Linked DNA regions of Homo sapiens: region 1 is linked to region 2. Evidence: fine-mapped expression QTL. A gene starts in region 2. The other region holds a variant in brackets. All regions are shown on one strand. Distances are between the middles of the regions.

Evidence for each region. PIP is the estimated chance that this variant, and not a neighbour inherited with it, causes the effect. A credible set is the group of variants that fine-mapping cannot tell apart.
Region 1: its variant is the best candidate, but not a certain one, in a credible set for the expression of PI4K2A in whole blood (TOPMed, PIP 0.89).

What each region holds. Positions count from the first base shown.
Region 1 is chr10:97,529,729-97,532,501 of GRCh38, forward strand. The region is part of intron 1 of UBTD1 (ubiquitin domain containing 1); the gene reads left to right. Among named protein-coding and RNA genes, the nearest start is that of UBTD1, 32 kb to the left of the region's middle. The variant C/T (reference allele first, on the strand shown) is at 1,171.
Region 2 is chr10:97,639,636-97,642,408 of GRCh38, forward strand. PI4K2A (phosphatidylinositol 4-kinase type 2 alpha) reads left to right here and starts at 1,036. Exons shown (of 9, transcript NM_018425.4): 1 at 1,036-1,542. The coding sequence starts at 1,108. RefSeq lists a silencer at 1,126-1,355.

The DNA.
Region 1 (2,773 bases), 110 kb before region 2:
ACCGTGGAAAGAGAGGGAGAGGGAGACCGTGGGGAGAGGGAGACCGTGGGGAGAGGGAGAGGGACTGGGACTGATCTGCCCTTCTTTGGCTTCATTCTGACCACCTCCTGCCTCGTGTGATCTACCTGGCAGCACTGCTTGCAGCTCCACAAACCTGAGCCCAGAGTAGGCTCACACTGCCTCCTCTGTCTGGCGAGCCCAGCCCCCTTGCCCTTTTGCCTGGCTAACTCCAGCTTGTTCTTTGGTACTTGGAGCAAACTTTAAGACCTTCCGCAGAGGGGGTGAGACCACATTCACGTGTCCCCCTGATTCCTGTGCATATCACTCCCCTTGCATGTGTGCATTAGTTTCTAACAATCTCCTGACATGTCTGTCTCCCTCACTAGCTCTGACCTTGAGAGCCTTAGTGACTTTGTGTCCGTGTTCCCCAGCACGGGGCCTGGTGCATACTAGAAGCTCAATACATGTTTCTTGAATGAATGAATGAATGAATGAATGGATGGATGAATCGATGAATGAATGAAGAATGATGCAAGCTCTTTATTATAAGAAATGCATCCTGAGCTGTGCATGGTGGCTTACACCTTTAATCCCAGTGACTCAGGAGGCTGAGGCAGGGGGAATGCTGGAGCCCAGGAGTTTGAGGCTGCAGTGAGTTACAGTCGCGCCACTGCACTCCAGCCTGGGCTACAGAGTGAGACCCCATCTCAAAAAAATTTTTACAAAAGCATACTTTATAGTGCTCAGCACATATTTGCTCAATAAATATTTATTAGATGATTCTGTGTGAAGTAAAAACAGGATTTTTTTGAAGTGTTATATTTATTCTATATTTTCTTTATGTCCTGAGTCGATTTCTAAGGATAGAACCTAGGGAAGAGGGGGCACAGGTAAATCCGGCAAGCAGCAGGGGTTGAGAACCACTGGTCCAGCAGCTGGTTTCAGATTAAAATAAAAACAGGATCGTGGACATCATAATGGTAGAAGCTTGTACATGCCATATGATCTCAGCAATATGAATGCTAATTGAGAGGAACAAAAGAAAATGTCTCAACATATTATTGCTGGTTATTTGGGGGTGATAGGATATAGGTTACTTATGTTTTTCCTTTTTATGTTTTTATTATATAATTTTTATTTTAAAAATTTTTTAAATTTTTAAATTTTTTA[C/T]TTTTTTGAGACGGAGTCTGGCTCTGTTGCCCAGGCTGGAGTGCAGTGGCGCGATCTCGGCTCATTAAAAGCTCTGCCTCCTGGGTTCATGCCATTCTCCTGCCTCAGCCTCCGGAGTAGCTGGGACTACAGGTGCCCGCCACCACGCCCAACTAATTTTTTGTACTTTTAGTAGAGACGGGGTTTCACCTTGTTAGCCAGGATGGTCTCCATCTCCTGACCTCGTGATCCGCCCTCCTTGGCCTCCCAAAGTGCTGGGATTACAGGCATGAGCCACTGCGCCCAGCCTATTTTTTTTAAATTTAACATATGCCATCTTTTTTTTTTTTTTTGAGATGGAGTCTTGCCGTCACCCAGTCTGGAGTGCAGTGGCACAATCTCGGCTTGCTGCAACCTCCACCTCTTGGGCTCAAGTGATCCTCCTGCCTCAGCCTCCTGAGCAGCTGGGATTACAGGCGTGCACCACCACGCCTGGCTAATTTTTGTATTTTCGTAGAGGTGAGGTTTCCGCCCAGCTAATTTTTGTACTTTATGTAGAGACGAGGTTTCACCATGTTGGCCAGGCAGGTCTCAAACTCCTGACCTCAAGTGATCTGCCTGCCTCAGCCTCTCAAAGTGCTGGAATTCCAAGCGTGAGTCACCAAGCCCGGCCGACATATGTCATCTTTTAAATGTAAAAAATAAGAAAAGTGGTTGGACCAGAGACTCCTGACTGTGCTTGGGATCACTGGGTCATGGAGCCAGTCCCTGAGCTTCAGCCTTTGGTTAGTCCCCCAGGGGCGATTCTAGGTATCGGGTCCATTCCTGACCCTCTGGCCCTTTCTGAGCACCAGCATCCTGGTGCTCCGAGAAACTGTCTCGTGCCCTTGGAAACTGTGATAAACAGTTCCTAGGCCCACAACAGTCTCCCCTGTGGTTTCCAGGTCCCCAGGTGAGGGCGGAGCATGAGGAATGTGACAGGCCATGGTGTAATGGGATTTTGCTAAGAATTTACCACCAGGAGGTAGTCTCCAAATGGGTCCCAGAATAGAAAAACTGGCCTGTGGTGTGATGAGGAGTGGGACCACAGACCTGGGGGCCAAGACCAGCAGGAAGACTCAGCAACAAGGCATTGTGATCCTGGGGGCTGGGTAGTTGGCCATCCTGGCAGGCAGTTGGAGGTGGGCAGGGACAGCCAGGTGGGACACTGAGGGTTAGAAAGGTGAGAGAGTCAAGGAGTAGATAGTGGGGGGCTGACTGGGCCGGGAGAGCAGCCAGTGGAGGGAGCACCTTGGGTCAAGGCGCTCTCAGTCTGCCATCTCTTGGCCCTGGAGCAAACCAAGCAGTTGGAGTTGTCTGCAGGGAGATTTGTAAGTTCACTTGTTTGCTGTTTCATGCCATCTTCCTCCCAAAGCCTTTCCTGAGTCTCTTCCTGTATATGTTCCACAGTTAAGGCGAGCTCTTTTTCTCCTCGAAAGCTCTGTTGAGCTGGGCGCAGTGGCTCATGCCTGTAATCCCAGCACTTTGGGAGGCCGAGGCAGGCGGATCTCCCGAGGTCAGGAGTTCAAGACCAGCCTGACCAACATGGAGAAACCCCGTCTTTACTAAAAATACAAAAAAATTA
Region 2 (2,773 bases):
TGTAATCCCCCAGCACTCTGGGAGACTGAGGGAGGAGGATCGCCTGAGGCCAGGAGTTCAAGACCAGCCCAGGCAACATAGAGATAACCTAACTCTAAAAAAATAATAATAATATTTTAAAAAGAAATCTTCAGGGCTTCCTAGGAAAACCTGGAGGCAATTGTTAAGACATTTTATCCTGACTGGCTACTTCACCCATTACCTTCAAGTTCCTGCGAACTTGAAGTGTAACCTGACATTGTTACATCTACATTGGAAGTATGTTAGGTCAACTGAGATACGAATTTGGGATACAAAGTACAATGTATAGCCAATCTATAACTTGTTATTTTAATGTAAATTCTTGGTAAACAAGTTAGGAACTGCCTCTTTTCCTTTAAAAACCTACTTCCAGGCCAAGCGCAGTGGCTCACACCTGTAATCCCAGCACTTTGGGAGGTCGAGGTGGGCAGATCACTTGACCTCTGTCGTTTTTTTTTTGGAGACTGATCACTCTGTCTCAAAAAAAAAAAAAAAACAAACCCAAAAAACAAACCCCCCGCCCCAAAAAAAACGTTTCATCGAGGTAGAGCAGCAGCTTTGTTTCTTTGCTTCACTGCTGTCTCCCTAGCACTTAGAACATAGTACGTGCTCAATAAATGAATGAGTGCCTGACTGAATGAATGAGGATACATAGATGAGATTCCTCCAATCTCACAGCCGGTTCAGAGTAGGCACTCAATGAGTGACTGACAGGATAGTTGCTGTTTTGAAAGCGCCCAAGTCCAGTAAGCCAATTGGAAGCTAAGCGTGGCGCTGGTATAGTAGGGGCAGGGGGCGTGCCTGACCCAAGGTTGGGTCCTGGAGCATGCGCAGTCTTCACAGAAGGTGACGGGGAGAAAAATGCGGAGGCAGCGATTGCGTAGGAGCAGGTTCTGATTGGCTACTGTTCGCGCGCGAGGGGCCGTGCCTATTCGTAGCCAAGTAAACAGGGCAGGTTAGAGGCGGGGCCAAGGAGGCGTCGCGACCTGGTTGGCCGGCCGGGGCCTGGGGGATGTCACGGATTGGTCGCGGCCGCGAGCGCAGTGGTGTGGAGCGCGCCGGGTCCCGGAGCCGGCTGTCTGAGGGATGGACGAGACGAGCCCACTAGTGTCCCCCGAGCGGGCCCAACCCCCGGACTACACCTTCCCGTCGGGCTCGGGCGCTCACTTTCCGCAGGTGCCCGGGGGCGCGGTCCGAGTGGCGGCGGCGGCCGGCTCGGGCCCCTCTCCGCCGGGCTCGCCGGGCCACGACCGCGAGCGGCAGCCACTGTTGGATCGGGCCCGGGGCGCGGCGGCCCAGGGCCAGACCCAAACCGTGGCGGCGCAGGCCCAGGCTCTGGCCGCTCAGGCCGCGGCGGCAGCCCACGCCGCTCAGGCCCACCGCGAGCGGAACGAGTTCCCGGAGGATCCTGAGTTCGAGGCGGTGGTGCGGCAGGCCGAGCTGGCCATCGAGCGCTGCATCTTTCCCGAGCGCATCTACCAGGGCTCCAGCGGAAGCTACTTCGTCAAGGACCCTCAGGGGGTGAGTGCGGGGGTGGGGACCGCCGCCGCGGGCTGAGGGCCGGCGGCGCTCCTGGGGAGTTGGGGGCTTCGCACAGCCAGAGGGAAAAGGGAGAAACTTCACAGTACCAGCCCCTGGCAGGATTTAGGGATGCCACTGAGGACTGGAGCTGGGGACGCTCTGCGGAATGGAGAAATAAATCAGAACCTACTTGGTGGGGGAGGAGTGAGCGGAAAATGAAAAGAGGAAATTGACCAGATACGGGCCGGGGGCTCAGCGGTGTGGTGGGGCAATCCGCCGCTGGACAGAGACTGCTTTCTAGTAGGGTACTTAGCTTCACACTACTGGGACAGCTATTCGGCCGCCGACTTGCAGATTTGGGGCTTTAGGCCTGTTCTCTCTTTTTGGACCGACCGAACCAGTGTGTCGCTGTTCACGGAGGAGGATGGGTGACCTATCAGGGGATCTGAGAATTCAGTTCCAGCCTTCTATGTTGTGGGGGATGTCCCCTGCCACCGTCCCAGCTCTTATTAACAGACGTTGAAGAAAGAATGGGCGGACTCACCAGTTTCATCTGCCCTGGGTATTGCTCACTTCTGGGAAAGGGTTCAAATACTTTTTGACGACTCCAAAGTTTAGATAGAACTTGGAGTTTTAGAAACATGGGGCCATCAGCTACTTTTTCTTTCATTTCTCTCCCAGGGCTATCAACAGCCTGCTTTTCAACTAAGGCAGAGCGTTTGCCGACCTTTATTTTGTCCCCTGCCTGTATATAAAGGGGGATGGTTATAGGATGGGGCATGGAGTGACCAGGGTATCTGAGAAGTGACCTTTATCCTTTTGAGAACTGCAGAATTTAAGAAATACCAAGTCTTCCCTGTTTTCAGGGAAGTTTCAGGGAAATTTTCAGGTGTGCTGCAATGGGTCATTGGAAAGATGTATTGTTATTTAAATTATGGGTGTCAAAGTTTCCTCAGATTTTCCCTGACATCTCTCCTGTGTGAACTCTTTAGATGGCCAGGGTGCTGTTTTAATAGGAGTCCTGAGTGGCCAGGACGGGCTGTTACTTGTAGCTCTTGGTTCGGCTCATTGAATGATCTAGTTATTCACTCAGAGTTTGAGTCGTCCCTGAATTAATCAAGAATTAGAGAACAATTCTGCCATGAACTCAGTTTCTCAGTTTACATAAACTGAGTTGGGGAAAGCTTTGCGAGTAATAAGTCTTTCGAAGTTTCTTTTTCTTTTTTTTTTT